3 separate regions of the Homo sapiens genome follow, and all the other regions are linked to region 2. Evidence: fine-mapped expression QTL. A gene starts in region 2. Each other region holds a variant in brackets. All regions are shown on one strand. Distances are from middle to middle.

Region 1 (5,372 bases), 27 kb before region 2:
TTTCTATCGTACATAATACAGTATGTATGTGTGTACATACATATGTATGCATGTATGTGTGTATGTATATGAACACACACATACACTGTATTATGTGTATATAGCTATATACAGATATATATAGATATAAAGGCTGCTTCACTGCTTCAAGTTTCTCTTATAGTACAATGGCTCCCCTAAGAGGGTTACAGAATTCCATTGACTGCTCTGTGAATTCATTTGCTGTGAGTTATTTCTGGCCAGCAAAAGCATGCAGTTACCTTTTGAATATCGTTCAAGTAGGCACTCCATGACTTTACCAGAGGTTTTTCCTGTAGAAATAAATCTGTGTATTATTTGTCTAGTCAAAAACAGAGCATGCTGACATGGGATCAGTGGGGGATTGGAAAATGGATCTGGGGTTGAGAAGAACGAGTAAGAGGGAATGTACTTATTTCAATAATACACCCAGGACAAAAAAACAAAATATATTATTTAAAGTTATGGAAGTAATGTGTGTATGGAGCTATATGCAGGAAAACCTTAATCGGTTTAATTCCTCTACACAAGTACTTAACTCTCGTCTGTGTATGATGTAATTTTATTGTCATTTGATTTCCATTCCCCTCGTTAATTATTATATTTCACCACTTTTAACACCTTCTTGTTGTGCTTGATTTAGGAAGAGATGTAAATACGCAGCTTTTAAAATCCTGGAGAAAAATTATCTACTCACCTCCCATCATACGCATACCTAAAAAAGCGTATGTATGCACACATGCACACACATGCCACAAATCTTGACTTTCCATCCTAAGAATGCACAGTGAAAAGGACATTATTTGCCTATCACAGTATCAAACAATAACTCTTAAAAGCTCTTCCCATCACACTTCCTTTTAAGATAAGTGGGTATTTTTTACATTGAAACGATACATAGTAACCTTCTAAAGTAAGCCCCTAGATTTAGAATATTTTGGCAGTAGTGTTTTTAGTGAGTATACAGTGACTGATACAGACATTGTTAAAATTAGAGGCTGAACATGTTTGATGTTTATCTTCCCTCCTTCTCCTCCTTTCTCTCATCATTTCATAAAAGCAATGACTTGGATTTTATTATGGAAATTATGCCATTCTGTTTAGAGACATCATTTTTAAATTTAGGTTTAGGTATATATTTGTCTAATAATTAATCACTAATACTACCTGAGTCAATAGTAAAATTACTATTCAATAAAATTCCTGTAAGATATAATTTAAAATGTGATAGGGAAATGTTTTCAGTGTGTTTTCTTTTGACTTTTGTGAAAGTTTTGTATGCTTATCAAATGCCTTTATATAGGGTTTTCTTTTCATAGACATTGTGGTACCTATAATTCTTGATTATTTGGCCTTAGTAGTTACAGCTAAGGTTAAATTTGCATTTGCATTACATTTCTAAAATAAATATAATATAATTTATAAAGTTCTTAATCACAAAAAGACAGGCCAAACCAACAAAGCTTAAAACTTTAGTACTAAGCTGGGCACCAGAGTTCGTGCCTGTAGTCCAGCTATTTGGGAATCCGTGGAGCCCAGCCTGCACAACAAAGTAAGACCTCATCTCTCTAAAATAAACTAATGAACAAAAACACCCAAAACAAAAAAGTTCCACCTTACTATGTCTGGACAGTCACATGCAAAAAAAAAAAAAAAAAAAAAAGAATTTAGAATGAGACCTTATACCCTTCACAAAAGTTAACTCAAAACTGACCACTGACATACATTTAAAATACAAAACTATAAAACTACTAGCAAATAACATAGAACTTCTAGATGATCTTGGGCATGATCACAACTTTTTAAATACAACACCAAAGGCAAGATCTATGAAAGAAAGAACTGATAAACAGGGCTCTATTAAAATAAAAAACTTCTATTCTGTGAAACATACTGTCAAGAGAAGGAAAAGATAACCACAGATTGGGAGAAAACATTTGTCCAAGACTTAACTGATGGACTGTTATCCAAAATACAAAAATAACTCTTACAACTCAACAATAAGAAAATGAACAACCTAATTTAATAAATAAGCCAAAGTTCTGAACACTTCACCAAAGAAGATACACAAATTAAAATAGCATATTAAAAGATGTACTACATCTCATGACACTGGGGAAGTACAAATTAAAACAACTATGAGATATTTTGACACACCTACTAAAATTGCCCAAATCCAAAACACTGACAATATTGAATGATGGAGGGAATATGGAGCAACAGAAACTTTCATTCCTTGCTGGTGGGAATGCAAAATACTACAGAAACTTTGAAATATAGTTTGGCAGTTTCTGACAAAGCTAAACTTACTCTTATCATATGACCCAGCTATCACACTCTTTGATATCTACCTGAAGACGCTAAAAACCACAAATGTTTATAGAAGCTTTATTCATAATTGCCAAAGCTTGAAAGCAAACCAGTATCCTTGAGTACATGAACAGATAAATAAACTGTGGTACAGCCAGACAATGGAATATTATTTAGCCCTGAAAAGAAATGAGCTATTGAGTCATGAAAAGATATGGAGGAAACTTAAATGCATATTACTAAGTGGAATAAGCCAATTTTTCAAGGCTACATACTGCATAATTCCAACAATATAACATTCTGTAAAAAGCAAAACTATGGGGCCAGTAAAAAGATCAGTGATTGTCTGGGATTTGGATAAAATAAGGGATGAATAAGCAGAACACAGAGGTATGCTAGGGCAGTGAAACTATTCTGTATGATGGATAC[C/A]TGTCATTATACATTTATCTAAACCTTTAGAATATAAAACACGGAGAGTGAATCCAAATGTAAAGTAAGACTTTGGTGAAAATACTGTATCAATGTAGGTTTATTGTGTAACAAACGTACCACTCTCATGCTGGATGTTTAGTAGTGGAGGAGGCTGTATCTGGAGGTGTGGGGAAGGAGAATACAGGAATTTTCTATACTTTCTCATCAAATTTGTTGGGAACTTAAAATTGCTCTAAAAGATAAAGTCTATTGCAAAAACAAAAAAACAACTAAAAAACACACGAACGAAAAGCCTTAATAAAATGTTTTCTCTTAAGGAATGAAGTAAATCAAATTACATTAAAAAAATAAAGTAGCCATAAAGCACCTTCCTGCCCAGGTCTCAAAGTACTTTTTAGCTAGCAACTCGTAACTGCTATATCCTTGAAGGCTTGTCAATACTTGCAGGAATTTTTATTAGTCGTCACCATAATAACTATTAAAGTCAATTATAATGCTTAACTTTTACTTTACAGATGAGAACATGAATGAATTTCATACCATTACATGTAGGACTAATTCTTAACTTTTAGCAATGATTGGGGGAAAGGAATAAAGCAGATCTTGCAATTCACATATTATCTGAAGCTTTCACACTAATTTCAAACTTATTTTCTATTAAATCATTTTTTAGAGGTGATAACCAAGATTGGGCAAATTCTGTCCAATTTATGCCTATTGTTCCATTATTGGAATGCTAAGCATGTGGGAGTTATTTATATCTTACTGCTCAAGATCATCGCCAAAGCCTGATTGCAAAAATTCAAGAAACTGCAACCTCAGGCATAAATGGGTTAATTTGTGTAATGCTTTTTTTCTTGTCCCTGCTGTCTTTTCTTGTCCATGCTTTTTCCCCCTTGTCTCTACCCTTTGAAACTGCTAATTAATAATGAAAAGTCTACAAGTAAGATCGACAAATAGGCATACGAGAAAATCACTGAGTTTGGATTTCTCAAAATTAGACAATTCAAATTTAGCTGAAGTTAGCAGAAGTTTAGAAATTCAAAATTTACAGTCCTCAAAACTTGTCTGATACTGAGATATGTGCGACAAATCTGATTTCCAAATGTGGATGAAGTCCACTTCGCTTTTCATAATTTTCCAGAATAGTTTCTAATCTAAAAAAATTCACCATTTGCTTTATTTTGATTACTTAGGTTTTGTTATATGGCTTATAAACGCTTTGAAACAACCAGTTCTGTTTCAGGTAATCTGTAATTCTGCAATCTCTAACCATTAATAGCTACACACAGACTTTCCAAATAGAATACAAAATTCATGACTAATATAAATGCCAGTTGGACAGATGACTAGGCCAACCCTTTCCACTATGAGAAACAATATAGCAAGTGTTCAACATATTTCAGTTAATGAATGAATGACCTAATGAAATTAGGAATGGACATTCCCAAAGGATTCCCATAAATAAACCTAAAAATCGTCATTTAAAATGAAGTTTTTTAATGCATGAGAGTGAAAAAATAATATTATGTTTTTTTCTTCTAATAGTGAATTTTGTGATGATAAAATTTATATTAATAATACCCAACATGTAGGATTCTAGGAACCATTCCATTTGTAATTCTTTAAAACCCCTTCTGCTGCTGGATGAAATGGGAACTGTTATACCACAGGTTTCCTACAGCACTGCAGGATGAATGGTCTTTTTCTAAGTGGCATTTGTATCACATGGATTGAATTTTAAACTGTTTTTTTCAGTGACCAATCAGACATTATAAAATAGTTATGCTACTGACTTGGTATGTGTTCAATGTCAAGCCATGTTTTTCCGTTGACAGCTTGAAAAGATTGTAAAACCACTAAAAATTTAAATTTGTGGTTCAAAGACACTTCTGCAGTTAGGCTGCTTTTATTTTTTCTCATTCCATTTAGTGAACACCTGCCTTTCACTGGATATTAAATCAATGCAAAACCTTTTAGATTTTGTTTGGAACCTAGGTAAAAACAAAAAAAAATTAAATATTTGGATAAAAGAAAAAGGATGGACTTATTTGTAGTTAGACTTTACATACTCAGAAGTACATACTTGTAAGACCTAATTTTTTTTTAATTATGCAACCTATTACTTAAGATAATGGAATATTATTTAAGGAAATAATGACTTGCTGTATTAGATTGAAGGTCGCAGTTCTGGAAGAGTAATTTAAGATGTAGTGGCCTGATGCTACTAACACTGTGATCATAATTGCCAACTTGTTAGCACCTAACTGAAAATTAATTGTACTAAAACCTGACTGTACATTATCCACCATGTATACCAACAGCTTATATAGAGTTTAGTACACAGAAGACATTTAGCTTACAACTGTTAAATTGAATTTTAAAAAACTGTCTTTTGAAACTCAGTGTTTATTTTCAATCAACAAACTTTTGAGCACCAACATTATATCAGACGTTCTTTTAGGTACTTAGGCTACCAAGGAAAAAAACATAGTCATATCCTCAAAAACTAAAACCCTAGTAGAGGAGAAAGAGAAATGTTTCCTAATAATTGGATATGGCAAGTGATCGAGAGCAGGGTTCTAAATCTTGACTTCCCATTAGAACCAGCT
Region 2 (5,372 bases):
AATATTTCTGGTTAGGTTTATTGAGGTGGTTGCCTAAATCTCACTTTAAATAAAGCCTTTAATGCTTTCACCCAGAATCCATAGAGAAGCTACATGAGTTGGGGAAGTTTAGTGTTGCTCTTTGTACTTTAACTTTTAATATCAGAGCACATATTGAAACCATAAACACAATGAAAATACAAAAAAATATTCCGACGATATTGGAGGACTATAACTCCCCCACCTCTTTTTATTCTTAAAGAGCCAAGGGCGTGGGGAGTGGCAGGAAGAGATATTCTCAAGATCTAAGTCCTGGACGCCATCCTGCGAGTGCTTAAAGCCCCTAGAAACGTGCAACCTGAACAACACCCCTTTTCGAAGTCTAAAACAATATTAGATTCCCAAAATATCGGCAAAGAAAGTCTTACCGTCAGACTTGCAGCAGGTTTCAGCTCAGACCCAGACTGAAAAGCTGAGCAGCTGGTGAACAAAAGATTTAGTTTTTTTTTTTTTTTAAACGAAGTCTGCAAAACTAATTTCCCTCAAAATAGAGCTCAATTTCCGTTAAAGAAAGCAGCGCTTACAAATCTCAGAATTCCTGATCAACCCCCACTCCACCCCACCTCTGAGCAATAGAAAACAATTCGATCTTTCACACGGATGTTATTGCGAAGCCACTATTCTGCAGTGTGACTTAAAAGAAAAGAAGATAGTGAGGCTTAAGCAAGGGGACTGGAAGAGGAGGGGAAAGGTTCTGCTTTGGGGACACCTCTCAAAGATTAATCAATGCTTTTTCCTAATTCAAACCAGATGTCTAGCCCAGTTTGCTGTACCCATTAATCCCACTAACAACTTCAAAGACCTGGTCATCATCCTCTGGACACCTGAGACAATGAAAAAACGGGGCGACACTGCTGGTGGCGCATTTGGGGCCCCGGGCAGAATAGGTGACTACAGATATTCTCCTGATGCGACAGGTCGCAGATGGGACATGACTGTTCCTCCTGCTCATTACAGCGCCACTCACTTGTGTGTAAACGACTCTGCCCCCAGCGGACCCTGTCGCCCGCCAAGCAAGTAGCAGCTTCAAAGCCCTGCCCTCGCTCTCGCATGCTTACTAGAGGCGAGTTTTCTATTTTATTTTCAGGGGTGCAAAATTGTAACCAAGTGCCCACGGTGAGTGAATTTTGGGAGCTATCGAAATGTAAGAATTCTCAGTAAATGGAACCCTGGTGGTAAGGAATGCATTAGCGGATTTATTTTTGAGCAGAAGAGAGTGGATTTCTGGAGGAAACCGAGGAGATCTGGGCTAGCTCCTGAGGGGAAAGGCTAGAAATGCGCGTGCAATCTACACATCTCATATGACCGGGACACAATCGCTTGGAAATATTCTTGACCCAGGAAAAGTTCTTCTTGGTGGACAAGTGGCTAGGAAATTGAGCGGGACCGGGAAAGAGGGGGAAGGGAGCCTCCACCTGGCATCGCACGTGAGGATGCCAGGGAGCAGGCATCTGCAACCCTTTCAGACTCACGCCTTCCTCCCACCCACCCAACCAGGTCCGTCTTCTTTCTGCACTGAGAACCGCCTTTTCCAGGCCATGGTGCTCATCCCCGCAACCTCAGATCTGGCGTCCCAGCCTATTAACAACCCACCGACAGAAACCAGCTGCGAAAACCTAGGCGCGCTGCGGCGCCCGGGGCACGGGAAGATGCAAAGTTTGAAAAACTTCGAGGGTGCGCCAAACTAGCTCTGGTCTTTTCCTTTAACCCTATTACTTCTTTCGTGTTCCTGAAAGGATAGGCGTATCCCTAGCTTTTCTGCAGGTGACAGTTCCCAAATGACACTGACAAGTCACGTTTCCCCGAGAGGAAAGTGAGTAGGTAGGAATCAGGGTGCTAGGTTGGGGGTGGTGTGCGCCGCGCCCAGGCCTCCAGAGTCTGGAGGGCAGAGCTGCTGCCCTCCCGGGCGGGACTTAGACGTTGGCGTGCCGCTTGTAGTCCTGGCAGCCGGCAGTGCTGGGCGGGCGTGGACGCTCTACGTCCGTCCAGCAGGAGATAGGAAGTGGAACTGGGAGCGCGTGGCGCAGGCTGAGCGGGAGTTTTGGAGGGAGTTTGCATGTGGTCAACTCTGGGCTCCTAAGCCAGCCCCCAGCTCACGTTACACTCTATTTATAACTTCTCAGAGCCATTTCCCCCTGAAAGCAGTTCTCTGGGACCACCTTCTTTTGGCTTCAACCTCTCCCACTCTTGACATCTGAGTAGCTCAGGGAAGCTCTTCCAGGTCCGACTGTTCATATGTAAAGGAGACTGGCCGCTGGGGCTCAGGACCGGGATTATCCGAGCTCTGCAGAAGTGCACCGCTATTGCTTTGGGAGGTTAAAAAAAAAATCACACGGTTTCCAGTGAAAAAGTGACAGAGGGTGGTGGCCTTTGGAACCGCCGTGAAGTCTTCTGCCTGGAACCCGAAACTTGCATGCTATGGAACACCCGCTCTTTGGCTGCCTGCGCAGCCCTCACGCCACGGCGCAAGGCTTGCACCCGTTCTCCCAATCCTCTCTCGCCCTCCATGGAAGATCTGACCATATGTCTTACCCCGAGCTCTCTACTTCTTCCTCATCTTGCATAATCGCGGGATACCCCAACGAAGAGGGCATGTTTGCCAGCCAGCATCACAGGGGGCACCACCACCACCACCACCACCACCACCATCACCACCATCAGCAGCAGCAGCACCAGGCTCTGCAAACCAACTGGCACCTCCCGCAGATGTCTTCCCCACCGAGTGCGGCTCGGCACAGCCTCTGCCTCCAGCCCGACTCTGGAGGGCCCCCAGAGTTGGGGAGCAGCCCGCCCGTCCTGTGCTCCAACTCTTCCAGCTTGGGCTCCAGCACCCCGACTGGGGCCGCGTGCGCGCCGGGGGACTACGGCCGCCAGGCACTGTCACCTGCGGAGGCGGAGAAGCGAAGCGGCGGCAAGAGGAAAAGCGACAGCTCAGGTAAGGGCGCGCCAGGCACCCTCGAGAGTGCGCGCCGGGCTGGAAAAGGGGCGGAGAGATACTAGGGGAGATTCTCGCACTGGAGGGTGGCAGCAGGGAAGATGGGAATGTGTTGCCCTCTGTGGCTTCCTGCGGCCAAATTCGGCGGTGAAGCTTTGGTCCTGATATTTGGGGACACGTGTTTATTCGAGAGCAATGCGTATACAGCCAGCAGCTCTAAGCCCTCCAAAGTCCTAAACTAGTTTACCAGAAGGTTGATAAAAAAGGACAAGTGGCTGTGAAATCGATTGTGAAGCGTGACCTTCCATCCCAGCGCTGGGGAGGGAGGGGCGTGCGCCCAGGGATGCAGCGTCCGTTGGGCAGGCGTGCGTGCGGGTGCCGCTTCTTGACTTTTCTCTTGCAAGTTGCCGACTCTGAGTGGCTCGATTTTTCCCATCGTTAACTGGATTTCCAAATTATTGCACAATGTTTGGAACTTGCAATGGAACTTGGCAGAGCGCATGAGAAAAAAAAGTTTCAGTTTTTTTTTTTTAACATTCTTATTTCAGCGTTCTTTAAATAGCACCCTATTTCAAATGGTAAAATTTTCCCTTTATTGGGGAAGAAGACATTATCTAGGAATTCAGATTTTAAGGAATGTGTCAGAGAATTGTAAATAAATAGATGCTCACACTGGAAGAAAGACGAACCTTAATAGTACATGTCCATGTGGTGTAAGCTAATTACAGAACCTAAGTTTCAAAAGTGGAAAATAAATCCCTCTACCAAGTGGGTATTAGTAGAGACAAATACTGCGAAGCAACAGCAACTCGGGTACTGTTAGTTAGATACGTGTCTAAAGGGGTATGCAAGGGTGCGCGCAGGAGGCGCTGATTTCAGTGGGGATAATTTGAGCAGCCATGCAAAAGGGGAACCTTCCTGACCTCTGGTGCTTGAAGGCACAACGTGCCGAATAAATTGTAGCAATCCAGAGAAACTCAAAGTTTCCAGACAAGTTTTCAAAGCTCTTACCTACCTGTATTTTTATAAAATTGTTAAAAGATACTTTAAAATTAAGAGACTTGTGAGTTTTCTTTCGTGGGTATAGTGCAACCTGGATTAAATACTTTTGGAAGGTGTCATTTGTTTAATATAATATTTGCATATTTTTCTTCCTCTGTGGAATTGGGTTAATAATAGTCCTAGAAGGTAATCCCATATGTTGGTTTGAAGGATTGGAAAAATGTTGATCGTGTGTAAAGCTTTAGGTAAGATGCCACATAAATGAAAATGATTGGCCGCATATTTAATATTCCTTCACCATTCACAGCAATATCAATTGTTCTTCAGCGTTACTATAGGATGGATTCTTCTCTCACGGTCTCAAAAGCTAACTTTTATTTTCCAAGGTCAGGGGGTGAACTTTTAATGTTCCATCACAAATTAGTTTTTATAAGAAAATTACCAGTAGTGTCACTGATATTTAATGTATTTTCCTAACTATAAGTGAAACTCTCTTTAGATAGTGAGTTGAAAGGTTAATCATAGCAAAAAGGTTTCAATTTTTATTAGAAAAACAGTCGATTTTAGAATGCAGTGACAATTTCATAAACTGAACATTTGATATCAGTGTAACTTTGGAAGCAGATCCCAGTTCGGGTTGATGAGCGTACTCTTGCAATTCCCATAAGCTCTTACGGTTCATTTTATTTCTTGCAATGAGAAACCTACATGATAGATTGTTCTTCATGCTTCCTGAACTGAGCCATTGCCCTTAAGTTTCTCAGGGCAAACAATTTTCATACAAGCACATGTTATTTTGTTTGGGGAAAACTGAGAAAACGGAATTCAATAACTGATTCCCTTAATTTATTTTAATAATTTTTTTAAAAAATGGAATAATTTAACAAAACTAATTTATCTCTCCCCCCCAACTTAGTGGGAAATAACCATTTAACAAAATTAAATTCATTTCTACATTTTGAAGCTGATAATGAGGGTACTGGAAAAACAAGCAAATATAAGTGTTTGTGTCAGCTACATAAATTATTAACAGATTAAAACTTCAGTGGAAAGTACAATTAGTCATCACCAAGGATAAAAATACTGGGGATTTAGAATGAGCTTTTCTTTCCTTTGATATGTTGAAGAAATATTGACTAAAAGGAAAATCACAATAGTTTCTGTTTAAATCTATGTACACTTATTGAAAATAAAATTTTATTTGCCAATTTCAGCTGAAGGTATATTTGTCAGATATTGAGATAGATTTAAATTAAAGATATCTTTCTCGTGTAACAATTGCATTAGGTGTTCCATAAATTATCTTCAAAGATATTTTATTTCATAGACATCTTGATCTAGCACAAACTAAAACAATATTGAAAATGATTATGATCCTGGTATGCTATTAATACGT
Region 3 (5,372 bases), 260 kb before region 2:
GAAATATAGAGGTATGTTTCTTTTCAAGAGTGTATTATTAGCATTTCTCAACACAGCACACACCCATAGCTAGGGTGTGTGTTGGATGACACAGGGCACCTATGATGGTTTCTTTAAGGAGAAAAAGATAATAATCACTTTTGATTTTCACTTTCTGGGTGAACAGATGCAAATATTTTCAGCAAATTGTTGAGATATTTCCTGTGGTAAAGCAGTTCTTGGAGACTTGGAAGAGTTATTTGCTTACATCAGTTTTTAGGAGTAATTCATAGAAGAACAATTCAATTGCAAAACCTAATATCGTTCCTCAAGCTACACCCTCTCTTCTTGTAGAAAAACACTGCCCAGGCTTCCTATTAAATACAAATCTTTTCCTAAAAGAAGGTGAGTGGCATCGAGTTTGAAACAATGGAGTGCCATCTGGAATGACAATTTATAGAAGCTACAAAAAGCTAGCTACAAAAAAAATGAGCATTATCCTTAAGGAATGATAATACATGCTAAAGATGTACAGTATTGAATTAGATTTCAATCTCATGAAACTTATAATCTTATTGAAAAACATAGGTTTTGAATCAAAACTCAAGGTAAAACGGAAATACACAGATAAATATTCTCCAAAGTGTGTGTGTGTGAATACACACATATACATATGTGTACATATTACACATATATTTATGTAATGTATGTATGTTTTTTAAATGTTTTAAAATCTTTAAACATGATTCCATATTCTATATAGATGACATGAGAAATCAGAAATAAGAGAGAAAAATAATTTCAAACACTGTAAAATAATTCAATATTAATTTTGAGAAAATTACCAACTGCTAACTTTTTAAATTATTAATAAAATGTAGTTTCCAACTTGGTGAAAATATTTCCTCGTTACTTTTGTAAGTTTTCATGAATTGCATTTATAAGATTTGCTTTAAGATTATATTTTAAAGCATAAAGATATTTTAAAATTGCACATGTAAAATAGACTGGAGAAATATTAGATTAAAAAGATAGAGGACTTGATAATTCTCATATACACCACTAACAACTGTGTGTTCATGTACGTTCAAAGACATCAGTCATTACTATTTTTTTAATCCAAATCTATTTTAGGCAAAACCATTATTTTTATATACATTTAAATTCTGATAGTTATCTTTTGTGTTTTACTATAATATGCATGACTATTGTATGCCATCTTGATCTCTGACCATCATCAGGGTTTAGAAATATGCTGTTCTAGTGGCAATATATTGAATCTCATAGCACACCTTCTCATGACAAGAAACTATGATCCCTATTCTATGTAATGAGTGAGAGGGTTTTATATTTGGAAGTCTCAGGAAATAGAACTAGCAGGGGACATTTGGGTCATAGTTTGAAGGACCATAATATAAAAAATAAGATAGATGAGTAGAGGTGTGAGTTAAAAAAAAAAAAAAAAACCATAGAAATAGGAGTCATTTTAATGGTATGCAGTTTAGAAGGAACTTCACGTATATATTCTCACATGGTCACTTTTTGATCTCTATGGAAACATCAACTAAAATCATTTAGTAAAAAGCTGATGATTTTAGGCAAAAATGAGGGTATGCTGTGACTGAGATTTCAAGAAAACAATTGTTTCTGAGAAATGTACACGTGTCTTCCTATTATGTTCTGGATGAAGCCATTCAAAACATGTTAATTAATAATGTAACTTTTTCTTTCTCTTTCTCTCTCTCCGCCCCTCCCCACCACCCTCTTCTCTCTTTCTTTCTTTCCTTCTTTCACGGAGTTTTGCTATTGCTGCCCAGGCTGGAATGCAGTGGTGCGATCTTGGCTGTCTGCAACCTCCGCGCCTCCCGGGTTCAAGCGTTTCTCCTGCCTCAGCCTCTTGAGTAGCTGGGATTACAGGCGCATGCCACCACATCCAGCTAATTTTTTTTATTTATTATTTTTTTTAATTAAACTTTAAGTTTTAGGGTACATGTGCGCATTGTGCAGGTTAGTTACATATGTATACATGTGCCATGCTGGTGCACTGCACCCACTAACTCGTCATCTAGCATTAGGTATATCTCCCAATGCTATCCCTCCCCCCTCCCCCCACCCCACAACAGTCCCCAGAGTGTGATATTCCCCTTCCTGTGTCCGTGTGATCTCATTGTTCAATTCCCACCTATGAGTGAGAATATGCGGTGTTTGGTTTTTTGTTCTTGCGATAGTTTAC[TG/G]AGAATGATGTTTTCCAATTTCATCCATGTCCCTACAAAGGACATGAACTCATCATTTTTTATGGCTGCATAGTATTCCATGGTGTATATGTGCCACATTTTCTTAATCCACTCTATCATTGTTGGACATTTGGGTTGGTTCCAAGTCTTTGCTATTGTGAATAATGCCGCAATAAACATACGTGTGCATGTGTCTTTATAGCAGCATGATTTATAGTCCTTTGGGTATATATCCAGTAATGGGATGGCTGGGTCAAATGGTATTTCCAGTTCTATATCCCTGAGGAATCGCCACACTGACTTCCACCATGGTTGAACTAGTTTACAGTCCCACCAACAGTGTAAAAGTGTTCCTATTTCTCCACATCCTCTCCAGCACCTGTTGTTTCCTGACTTTTTAATGATTGCCATTCTAACTGGTGTGAGATGGTATCTCATTGTGGTTTTGATTTGCATCTCTCTGATGGCCAGTGATGATGAGCATTTTTTCATGTGTGTTTTGGCTGCATAAATGTCTTCTTTAGAGAAGTGTCTGTTCATGTCCTTCGCCCACTTTTTGATGGGGTTGTTTGTTTTTTTCTTGTAAATTTGTTTGAGTTCATTGTAGATTCTGGATATTAGCCCTTTGTCAGATAAGTAGGTTGCAAAAATTTTCTCCCATTTTGTAGGTTGCCTCTTCACTCTGATGGTAGTTTCTTTTGCTGTGCAGAAGCTCTTTAGTTTAATTAGATCCCATTTGTCAATTTTGTCTTTTGTTGCCATTGCTTTTGGTGTTTTAGACATGAAGTCCTTGCCCATGTCTATGTCCTGAATGGTAATGCCTAGGTTTTCTTCTAGGGTTTTTATGGTTTTAGGTCTAACGTTTAAGTCTTTAATCCATCTTGAATTGATTTTTGTATAAGGTGTAAGGAAGGGATCCAGTTTCAGCTTTCTACATATGGCTAGCCAGTTTTCCCAGCACCATTTATTAAATAGGGAATCCTTTCCCCATTGCTTGTTTTTCTCAGGTTTGTCAAAGATCAGATAGTTGTAGATATGTGGCGTTATTTCTGAGGGCTCTGTTCTGTTCCATTGATCTATATCTCTGTTTTGGTACCAGTACCGTGCTGTTTTGGTTACTGTAGACTTGTAGTATAGTTTGAAGTCAGGTAGTGTGATGCCTCCAGCTTTGTTCTTTTGGCTTAGGATTGACTTGGCGATGAGGGCTCTTTTTTGGTTCCATATGAACTTTAAAGTAGTTTTTTCCAATTCTGTGAAGAAAGGCATTGGTAGCTTGATGGGGATGGCATTGAATCTGTAAATTACCTTGGGCAGTATGGCCATTTTCACAATATTGATTCTTCCTACCCATGAGCATGGAATGTTCTTCCATTTGTTTGTATCCTCTTTTATTTCCTTGAGCAGTGGTTTGTAGTTCTCCTTGAAGAGGTCCTTCACATCCCGTGTAAGTTGGATTCCTAGGTATTTTATTCTCTTTGAAGCAATTGTGAATGGGAGTTCACTCATGATTTGGCTCTCTGTTTGTCTGTTGTTGGTGTATAAGAATGCTTGTGATTTTTGTACATTGATTTTGTATCCTGAGACTTTGCTGAAGTTGCTTATCAGCTTAAGGAGATTTTGGGCTGAGACAATGGGGTTTTCTAAATATACAATCATGTCATCTGCAAACAGGGACAATTTGACTTCCTCTTTTCCTAATTGAATACCCTTTATTTCCTTCTCCTGCCTAATTGCCCTGGCCAGAACTTCCAACACTATGTTGAATAGGAGTGGTGAGAGAGGGCATCCCTGTCTTGTGCCAGTTTTCAAAGGGAATGCTTCCAGTTTTTGCCCATTCAGTATGATATTGGCTGCGGGTTTGTCATAGATAGCTCTTATTATTTTGAAATACGTCCCATCAATACCTAATTTATTGAGAGTTTTTAGCATGAAGGGTTGTTGAATTTTGTCAAAGGCTTTTTCTGCATCTATTGAGATAATCATGTGGTTTTTGTCTTTGGCTCTGTTTATATGCTGGTTTACATTTATTGATTAGCGTATATTGAACCAGCCTTGCATCCCAGGGATGAAGCCCACTTGATCATGGTGGACAAGCTTTTTGATGTGCTGCTGGATTCATTTTGCCAGTATTTTATTGAGGATTTTTGCATCAATGTTCATCAAGGATATTGGTCTAAAATTCTGTTTTTTTGTTGTGTCTCTGCCTGGCTTTGGTATCAGAATGATGCTGGCCTCATAAAATGAGTTAGGGAGGATTCCCTCTTTTTCTATTGATTGGAATAGTTTCAGAAGGAATGGTACCAGTTCCTCCTTGTACCTCTGGTAGAATTCAGCTGTGAATCCATCTGGTCCTGGACTCTTTTTGGTTGGTAAGCTATTGATTATTGCCACAATTTCAGCTCCTGTTATTGGTCTATTCAGAGATTCAACTTCTTCCTGGTTTTAGTCTTGGGAGAGTGTATGTGTCGAGGAATTTATCCATTTCTTCTAGATTTTCTAGTTTATTTGCGTAGAGGTGTTTGTAGTATTCTCTGATAGTTTGTATTTCTGTGGGATGGGTGGTGATATCCCCTTTATCATTTTTTATTGCGTCTGTTAGAGTCTTCTCTCTTTTTTTCTTTATTAGTCTTGCTAGTGGTCTATCAATTTTGTTGATCCTTTCAAAAAACCAGCTCCTGGATTCATTAATTTTTTGAAGGGTTTTTTTGTGTCTCTATTTCCTTCAGTTCTGCTCTGATTTTAGTTATTTCTTGCCTTCTGCTAGCTTTTGAATGTGTTTGCTCTTGCTTTTCTAGTTCTTTTAATTGTGATGTTAGGGTGTCAATTTTGGATCTTTCCTGCTTTCTCTTGTGGGCATTTAGTGCTATAAATTTCCCTCTACACACTGCTTTGAATGCATCCCAGAGATTCTGGTATGTTGTGTCTTTGTTCTCGTTGATTTCAAAGAACATCTTTATTTCTGCCTTCATTTCGTTATGTACCCAGTAGTCATTCAGGAGCAGGTTGTTCAGTTTCCATATAGTTGAGCAGTTTTGAGTGAGATTCTTAATCCTGAGTTCTAGTTTGATTGCACTGTGGTCTGAGAGATAGTTTGTTATAATTTCTGTTCTTTTACATTTGCTGAGGAGAGCTTTACTTCCAACTATGTGGTCAATTTTG

Which allele goes with the higher level. Positions count from the first base shown, and alleles are read on the strand shown. Sizes are in standard deviations (SD) of each study's normalised expression.
In carriers of allele C in region 1, the expression in nucleus accumbens of the gene that starts at base 2,177 in region 2 tends to be higher than with A alone (moderate effect, 0.47 SD a copy in GTEx).
For the expression in esophagus muscle of the gene that starts at base 2,177 in region 2, allele G in region 3 goes with a higher level than allele TG (small effect, 0.26 SD a copy in GTEx).

What was found. PIP is the estimated chance that this variant, and not a neighbour inherited with it, causes the effect. A credible set is the group of variants that fine-mapping cannot tell apart.
Region 1: its variant is the best candidate, but not a certain one, in a credible set for the expression of MEOX2 in nucleus accumbens (GTEx, PIP 0.54).
Region 3: its variant is the best candidate, but not a certain one, in a credible set for the expression of MEOX2 in esophagus muscle (GTEx, PIP 0.82).

Annotation. Positions count from the first base shown.
Region 1 is chr7:15,710,464-15,715,835 of GRCh38, reverse strand. LOC101927558 (a long non-coding RNA gene) reads right to left here. Exons shown (of 4, transcript XR_927057.3): 2 at 261-311. Among named protein-coding and RNA genes, the nearest start is that of LINC02587, 25 kb to the right of the region's middle. The variant C/A (reference allele first, on the strand shown) is at 2,758.
Region 2 is chr7:15,683,488-15,688,859 of GRCh38, reverse strand. It overlaps MEOX2 (mesenchyme homeobox 2), which reads left to right and starts at 2,177. Exons shown (of 3, transcript NM_005924.5): 1 at 2,177-2,974. The coding sequence starts at 2,458. It overlaps LINC02587 (long intergenic non-protein coding RNA 2587), which reads right to left and starts at 482. Exons shown (of 2, transcript NR_110094.1): 1 at 408-482. RefSeq lists an enhancer at 2,981-3,813.
Region 3 is chr7:15,942,820-15,948,191 of GRCh38, reverse strand. No RefSeq gene overlaps it. Among named protein-coding and RNA genes, the nearest start is that of LINC02587, 260 kb to the right of the region's middle. The variant TG/G (reference allele first, on the strand shown) is at 2,213.